Linked DNA regions of Homo sapiens. The protein of the gene in region 1 purifies or fractionates together with the protein of each later gene. This does not show direct contact. Each region holds a gene or a part of one and is shown on either strand. Other genes may lie near its edges.

Region 1 (3,500 bases):
AGACCCGGCCTCATGCAGCTGCCGTTGAGCTCCTTGCTCTTGGCATGTGGGGCAGCGTTGCCCAGGGACTGCAGCGAGCAAGCTGAGCGCTGGTAGTCGCCCTCCAGGTGCGTGGCGGCCTGAAATGGGGGTTGGGGGGGGACATCGAAGCCGAAGCCATTGCTGCCAGGGTACGAGGAATAGCCTCCGAAGAGAGCAGCCGCGGCGTTGTCGTAGTAGGTGGCTTTCTGCATCGCTGGGTGAGGCCTGGGCAGTGGGTGGCAACTTGGAAAGGCCTGATACCCTCAGGACCGGACATTGGCAACCCTGGGGGTCACGTGACACGCCGGACCCCCCCCCCCCACCTCCCCTCTCTGCCCCCCTCCTCCGGGGTCTGTTCCAAGCGGCTGACCTGCGAGGCGAGAGAAGAGACACAAGGGGGAGAAGAGGACTGGGGCTCGAATCCATCTTAGGAACTGAAAAGGGAACTGACATCAATAGGGTTTTTTCTTTTCCCCTCCCCAACATCTCCAAAGCAGATGCTGAGAAAAAAAAGCCCACCAGTTTTCATTTCCACTAAAAAATAAAAAAATAAATAAAGACTATATGCCTTTCAAGACTGCCTAGATGTAGAATCTATGGCAAAGGCCATTGCTTCTCTCCTGCCTGTGCACTAGCCCCTGACCTCCCCTAGTCCCTCTCTCCCTATCTCTCCTCCCCAACTCTGGGATAGGATGGCTCAAGGGAGGGGACACTAGGAGACTCCAAAATAAAAGCATCATCAACACCCTCCTCTGAGCCCAGAGGCTTCTATGCTTCCAGCCTTTGCCTCCTTCCAAGTCGGTTTAGGTCTCTTGCCCAAGCAAAGTCTAGCCTGAAGGAAAACCAAAGGATCTCCTAAAAGAACAGGCAGGAGAAGCAAGTTCAGCAGAGAAGCTTCTCTTGTGAGGTATCCTCTCCACTTCCCACCACTCTCCCACCAGGAAGACAACAACAGCCTGACCTAGAAACTTCCTGATGATTTTTAACCTCAAGAGCCAGCTGAACCGAGACTCATCTGTCCATGGCCCTGCTGCAGGTACCACCACCTCCAGCCCTTGTCTTTGCTCAGCCAAACCTGGGATCGGGCAGCCAGTGGCCCTGTGGGGCCCCCACATGGAGCAGGATTGTTTCAATTTCCTGGGCCACGCCAGTTGGTGCTGTGACCATTTGGCCCAGGTCTCTCCCCGGACCTCTTTTTTTTTTTTTCATGAGACTTAATTTTTCCCACCCTTTCCTTCACCGTCTGTTTTCTTTGATTTCCCCCAAAGCAAATAAGAAACAAGAAGTTACAACTGCTAGACTTTTCTACTGAGACGGGGAAAGTGCTTTCCAAAAGAGAAAATTATTCCTGAGGAAAAAAAAATTAACAAAGCAATTTTAACAATATTATTCTCTAGGTTAGAAACAGAGGTATTCCTGTTGACTGAGGTTCCCTGAGGCAAAAAAAAAAAATCACTATTTTAATACAGCCTTTTAAAAGTGTGCCAGAAAAATAAAGATTCAAACTAACATAGGATTTTGTGTATTTGTTCTGAAACTTCTGACTGCATTTTTTTCCCTCCATCTCTCCCAACTCTTCACCATCACTTTTCATAAAACCTCCATACTGCCATGTGTGTTTGGAAAACTTTAATCTCATTCAGCCTAGCTGTTCAACTCCAAAGAAAACTAAACATAGGAAAATAAAATAAAAGGAGTGCAGGTGAAGAAAAGTCCCTCCCTCACATAAATCCCCTTCTTCATGGCACAGATTTATACTCAAAAGGGAATCAGTGTAACCCTGAGTTCCGATTGGTTTCTGGAAATACACATGGGTCTGCAAAGCAGCAGGTCCTTCCAGGGAGAACCAGAGTTCAATTGACCAGGCTGACCCAATCCCTTTATTATTATTACCATTAGCCTCTGCTGATTTAACCAAAATTAGCTTCCAAGCAGCCCTGGCTGAAGGGGGAATTAATTAACAGGCATTAGTTGTGGTTGTTATTAATAGAGAAGAGAATGAAATAAAAACGTTGGAGGGGGTTGGCTGGCTAGGCCCTGGCTTTATTTAGTCTGATTGTTACAGCAATAATAATGATGACGATGATGATGATAGTAATAATAATAAAACAATAATTTAACTAGATGCCTGGGGCCGAAATTCCTGCCGCTCCCCTTGCAATAAACCCCAAACCATCGCGGGACGGAGGCCAGGCGAGTGTGGAAAGCGAAGGAGCCAGAGACGCGATAGGAAAGAATGGAGACTCCGCCGGTGGTGCAGACAGGGCTGGGAAGGTTTGTGCACCCGGGTAGTCCCTGGCTGCTGCTGCCAGGCTGCCTCAGCCGGTCGCTGCTGCCGCGGCGACTGGCGACAAGCTACCAGCCACCTACGATGGCCCAAGGAGGCGAAGAAGAGCAAGCGATCAGGACACCAAAACGGTTATCGGAGGCAGGTTCCCAGCACACCAGCCGGCCGAGGGCCGAGCCCCGCGGGCGGCAGCAAGTTTTGGGAGCTGGAGGTAACCGAATTAAAAGGCGCCTTAGAAACTCCGCTTCGGGACTTTGCTCAGCAGGGCTCCGGGTTGGAGGGCGCCGAGGCCTGGCGGACGGGACAGTGGGAAGAGAGAAAGGTGCTAAGGGGACCCAAGATCTGGGATCCAGAACAAGAGGGGGTGGGGAACAACTCTACCAAGCCAAACAGATCTATTTCCCTTGCCTCCATGTTGGAAAAATTCAGGTTCCATATGGCTCCTCGGGAGGGAGGGAGGGAGACGGTGGCTGCCGGCTTCCCCCCAGGGTCTCGCTGGAGAAGGGAGATGAGCCCCCCGCAAGAACCCCACCTTGCCAAGCACACCCCAGGGAGAGCCAGGAGAGTAACAATAGCTGGGGAAGCCCCGAGAGAGGGGATAGGCCATCTTCCAGGACTTAAAAAAATTAATGGGAGAAAGAAAAATAACAAGAAAGGAAGACAGAGAAAGGTTGAGACTTTCTTAGCAGCCGCGGAGAAAATTCAGCCCTGGATCTGGCTGCTGAAAGAAAAGAGAGAGAGGAGAAAAGAGGAGAGAAGCAGGAAGAGAGAGGGGAGAGAGAGAGGGAGAGAGAGAGAGAGAGAGAGAGAGAGAGGGAGGGAGGGAGGGAGGGAGGGAGGGAGAGAGAGAGTCGCTGCGTGGAAGGAAGCTTAAAGCTTGTGAACTCTTCTTGAACCGAGATTGGAGTCATATGGGCCATAAATCATTGAGACATACTCTCCGCCATTCACAAACTGATAGCCTATTTCAGTCCAGCTTACCTTAGCCACCGACGAGGGGAGAACAGGCAGACATAATATATATTCACATCGAGCCCCAGAGCGAGCGGCAGGCGACAAATCTCCCCTCCTTGAAGGCAAAGGAAAAAAAGACCACTGTTTAAAGCTGCGTCGCCCCCCGCCCCCCCGCCCCCGCCCCGCAAAGCCACCCCGGCTGGGGAGCCCGAGGGGCAGACCGGCCAGAGGAGCCGCG
Region 2 (5,320 bases), on another chromosome or scaffold:
GTTAAGACGCTTTATAGCATAGAGATCCACGCACTGGGTAGAGGTTTGCCCCACCGTACCTCAGAACAGTACCCTAGAGCTGCAGTCAAGTATGCTATTGCATCCCATGCTATTTTATGACTCTGGAAGCTTTATGGCCTCGTGTAGACCATTGCTTTATTTTGAAAGCAGTGATCATCTGCAGATCAAGTGGTGAGCATGAGCCTGTGTTATTGTTGCATAGGACTGTGTGATGATATTTATAGCCTTCACCATTTACTTTTTAAACGTAGGTGCGAGAAGCTGCTTATAAAATTTTTCTTTATCCCAATGCTGGTCAATTGAAATGTTTAGAAGAATTGCTCAGCAGCAGAGATCTTCTGGCAAAGTTGGTGGGGTATTCCACGTTTTCTCACAGGGCTCTCCAAGGAACGATAGCTAAAAATCCAGGTAAGCCTGTTTATCCAACATTTAAGGGCAAAATAGGATTTTTATGAAACTGAGCTTTTGATTTTAAATAGCTGTAAATTAGTGTTCTATTTTTAATACATGTAGAGAACCATTTATTGAGATTTTCTATGTATTTTTATAGGAACCATTTTTAAATAGAGCTAATAATTTGGCATAATTCTGTCCAACCAAAGAATTTTATTTTATGTGAATGTTGAGAGTAAAATCATAACCTAAATTTTCATTTTGATGTTAGTCTAAATTGTTTTCATTTTAACACAGTTTCTGTGCTGAATTTGACAAATTGGTTAGAATTAGTGTAAGAGAATGAAAGATCAGTATGTTTACTGAGGTCAAGGTTAAATGTAGGTTAGGTCATATAAAAAACACACAGTCAGATAAGCCTCCTTTTCAGAGAGAAGAGTACTGCTTAGGAAGGTTTGTGCTAGGTGAGGTGTTACGGAAGTGTGTCGTTGGGTTTGTCATAAACTTGCCTTGTGCTATGTTGAGTTCCTTATGATTCATAATGTCTAAGAGAAAATGTTACACAATAATAATATAAATGTACATAATACGTTTTTTCAGAAGCATTTATTAACTTACAGTTGTAATTTAGGTGGTGAGTCAGGAGTAGGGTGGCCGTGATGATGGAGCTGCGTGAGACTCAAGGTCTTGGCAGTGAAGTTGCAAGACTTAGTGAGGGTGAGAGGGAGGAGGAGGCATTGTGGTGGGCCCCCTGGGTTTCTGGTTGTACATCTGGTTAGACATTCCACTCACCGACAGAGGGGACACTGGGGGCAGATCACAACCTGAATCCTCGCTTGTCTTTATTCCTTCTGTGCTTATCCCTTCTCACCCTAGCATGTTCCTCTCTTCTCCAAAGTTCTCTAAATGCACTCAATCTTACTTCTTACTCTTTCGTAAACAACTGTTTCCCTTGACCTGTCAGGGCTCTCGGTTAAGCTACAGGCGTGTCACGCTCATTGCGGCCTGGGTTCCCTTGCTCGTGTCACTCTCCTATGGAGAGCAGCTTTTCTTCCTGGTCTGCCTGTTAAAATCTTACCCCGTTTTTTTAGTGCTCAGCTCAAAACCCACCTCTTTCATGAAGCTGGTTAAACTTTTTCACTTTCCTTGGACTCCTTTGTCCCCGAACCCTTAAAACACTTACATTTTTTTTCATATAATCGAAGCTCCTAAACAGATATAATATGTATGTTATGTATTAAATGTGTGTTTTTAGTGTATGTTTTTTCTTTTTTTGTAAGTATCAGTTTGGTGAAAAGTATGTTTTTCTGTAGTCGCTGTTGTCAACAGTTTGATTATAATAGTACCATATTTTTATTTTATATTTATATAAAATAATAATATTAGAATATCATTCAGTGCTTATCCTGTTGTTATCTCATTTCCTTCCTCTGCAGCTTTGTGAGGTAGGTATTTGTATTCGTGTCACAGATAAGGAATCTAAGGTTAGGTTATATTGCTAAAATGTGGCAGAACTGAAGCCTAAACACATATGCTACATTTATGGTTTTCCACAGGCTGCTTGAGACCTAATGCCCTATGTTTTATATCATCTACATCCCCCTTTTGTTTATTAATTCAGCAAATATTTACTGATTGCCCACTGTATGTCAGATATTATTCTCGGTCAGGGAAATAAGTCAGTGTACAAAGCAGAAGAAAATTCCTATCCTTATGCAGTTTACATTCTTGGGAGCAAGGGAAGAACAGTAAAGAACGAAATAAGTAGATAAAGTATGTGGTATGTTATTAGTTAATACAAGCCATGGAGAAAACTGAACAGGGAAGGGGATAAGGTATGTGGGCATGTAGGCTGGTGTTGGAGTTTTAGAGAGCATTGTCGGAAGGCTCACTTAGAATGTGGAATGTGAGCGTGCTCTTGACAGACACAAGCATGAGGCTGTGGCTCTTGAGGGGAGAAAGGTTTCACGCAGAGTCACTATCAAGTGCTAAGGTCTTGAGGCAGAAAAATGCCTGCCACGTTTGAGGAGGGCAGAGTGGCTGAAGCGCAGCGTGTGCAAGGAGAGTGGCGAGAGGTGGGAACAGACTGACAAGGGGCGGCATTAAGTAGAGACTTGATGCAAGTGCAGCAGGTCACTGTGGGGGTTGGGGCAGAGGAGTGAGATGATCTGACTCCAGTGCTAATGGTGAGTCAGTGCTGCTGTTCCTGAGAGAAGACTGCAGCAGGGCCAGGGTAGAAGAGGGCCTGTTTAGATGCTGTTTTGCAGTAACCATGATGAGAAGTGTTGGCATCTTGACCAGGTGGTAGCAGGGAAGGTGGTAAGATGTGATCAGATTCTGGGTACAGAGTATTTGGAAGAGGGAGCCAACATTTTCGACCTAAGCAACTAGAAAGAGAGTGAGTTACTACTGTTAACTAAGATTGGGAGGACCGGAAACTTGGTTTGTTTCAAGTTAAGTTTGAGATACCAAATGAGGTTCAAGTGGTGAAGTTGGGTAGGCAGTTAGATGGAGTGTGGAGTTCTGAGCTTCATATGTAAGTCTGAACCTCTAAAATGAGATTCTGATACCACTAAGAGAGTGAACTTAAAGAACAAGTCCAAGGACTGCGCTCTGGGGCCTTCAAGTTTAAGAGGCCAGGCATGTGAGGAACTGCTAGTTAACGCTGCCAGATGTAACGGCCACTAAGGGAGGTGGAAAGTGATTACAGGGTGTGGTCCTGGAGGCCGCGCAGAAGGTCTGTCTACAGGAGAGGGGAGAGATCAGCTGACTCATGCTGTGGCCAGGTCAGATGTGAGGAGGGCTGGGCATGACCACTGGCTGTAGCAGCGTGGAGCTCACTGGACCTGCAGCACCCAGCTCCAGATTCCGTGACTGGCAGGTCACCCTTGTGCACTAAGTGCTTGGTGTGCTGATGTATTGGCAGGGGGCTGTTGTGCACATCATCACGTAAGATGTGCTCTGGGTCCTTGAGGATTTAAAGCTTAGTTGAGGAGCTGGATATATGCATATAAAAAGATAAATAATAATAGAGGTTGGCACGTTTTCGGTGTCGATGGAGTAGTACAGACAAAACAATGCCATGGGATTTAGGAGCTCGGGGCATTTGTCAGATGCATCTGTGGCTGTGGAAGGCGCCCTGAGGGAAATGAAACTGTCATGCACAGTGATGGAGTGAGTCCTCAGCAGAGCAGAAGGAAGACAGAGAGGCTGACTGAGGCTAAGGCGGGCATTCATGTGGCTAGTGAATGAGGAGGTAACTGCGGTGAGGCACTTAGTGGGGGGTTTCAAACTGAATCTTAATATGACAATTCTCTGGGGACACTAATTGAGGCAGGCCAGATGTGGTGTCTCATGCCTGTAATCTCAGCACTTTGGGAGGCTGAGGCAGGCAGATCACTTGAGGTCAGGAGTTCAAGAACAGCCTGGCCAACATGGTGAAACCCCATCTCTACTAAAAATACAAAAATTAATTGGGCGCGGTGGCGGGTGCCTGTAATCCCAGCTACTCAGGAAGCTGAGACAGGAGAATCGATTGAACCCTGGGAGGCAGAGGTTGCAGTGAGCCGAGATGGGACTTCTGCACTCCAGCCTGGGCAACAGAGCAAGACTCCATCTCAAAAAAAAAAAAAAATTAATTGAGGCAGATTCTTCACATGTAAAATGACTGGAAGAATAAGATGGGTGAATGTTAAAACACGGTTATTAAGAAATAAAACGTATACAAGCATACATAGGGATTCATTTGAAAACAGTTTGGTATGGTACCTGGAATATAATCCTAAAATGAGATTTCATTGTTGACTAAATAATGTCTTTGTTCCCCAAAAATTCCTATTGTTGTTTCATATGGCACATGAGCCAGTGTTTTCAGAATTCGTATACACAGGACTTGTTAAGTATTGACAGTGGCAAGAAACCTCATGGTTTGGGTTTAGGTTAACCACCATTATTTATTTCCTTAGTCTTTTATTTCACTCAAAAGGAGATAACTTAAATTGAAGAGAGGGCAGGAAACTTAAAACTGTATAAAAGATTATCTGGAAAATACAAACATAGTGTTTGTGGTGAACTAAAATACATATGAAAGCTCTGTACACATAAGTCAGTGATAAAAAGTGCTACATTCAGAAATACTTGCAAAACATTTCCTCTTGTGGGAAACGGTGATAATTCTACTGCACTGCCTTTATGGGTTTGTAAATTATGACAACTATGGCAGAAGTATTTTAATAAAAATACTTTAAAAATTCTATCAGAAGTTAATATTTATTTTTCTTATTTTGCTATTTTTTTCATATTTATCCTGAATAGATTATTCTACAGTTGTATATAACAATAAAATTGTTATCAAGAAAAACATTGATCTTAAAAAATTTATTTCAGGGAATTATACTTCTACACTGCACCTATTTTTATGAACAAAGCAGTCTAGATATCTCTTTAAAACTCTGAAAACGTCAGACATGTCTCAGAACTTTTTTTTCTTACACATATGAATAGATAGAAACACCTTGAAATTTTGTACTTTTTTCTTTAGCCTCCCATTAACTCTTTTTTTTTTTTTTTTTGAGATGGAGTCTCACTTTCTTGCCCAGGCTGGAGTACAGTGGCACAGTCTGGGCTCACTATAGTCTCTACCTCCTGGGTTCAAGCTATTCTCCTGCCTTAGCCTCCCAAGTAGCTGGGACTATAGGCATGCACCACCACGCCTGGCTAATTTTTGTATTTTTGGTAGAGACGGGGTTTCAGCCTGTTGGCCTTGCTGGTCTTGAACTCCTGACCTCAGGTGATCCACCCCCTGCCCTCAGCCTCCCAAAGTACTAGGATTACAGGCATGAGCCACCTGGTCCCATTAACTCTTTTAATTTTGGGATAGAATCTGACGCTGTGGATTATTAGTATG

Evidence for each region. Proteins that work in one complex are often made in the same cells at the same time.
Region 2: the proteins of HOXB3 (region 1) and MIPEP purify together in Homo sapiens (affinity purification with mass spectrometry; one large-scale study listed by BioGRID and IntAct). This does not show direct contact.

What each region holds. Positions count from the first base shown.
Region 1 is NC_000017.11:48,552,242-48,555,741, forward strand, and holds part of HOXB3 (homeobox protein Hox-B3), read right to left. Parts: exon of another isoform or gene 3,484-3,500; intron 3,378-3,483; coding exon of another isoform or gene 3,290-3,377; exon of another isoform or gene 392-3,289; 5' UTR 234-391; coding exon 1-233. UniProt on the Homo sapiens protein: Sequence-specific transcription factor which is part of a developmental regulatory system that provides cells with specific positional identities on the anterior-posterior axis.
Region 2 is NC_000013.11:23,864,401-23,869,720, reverse strand, and holds part of MIPEP (mitochondrial intermediate peptidase), read left to right. Parts: intron 1-272; coding exon 273-429; intron 430-5,320. UniProt on the Homo sapiens protein: Cleaves proteins, imported into the mitochondrion, to their mature size.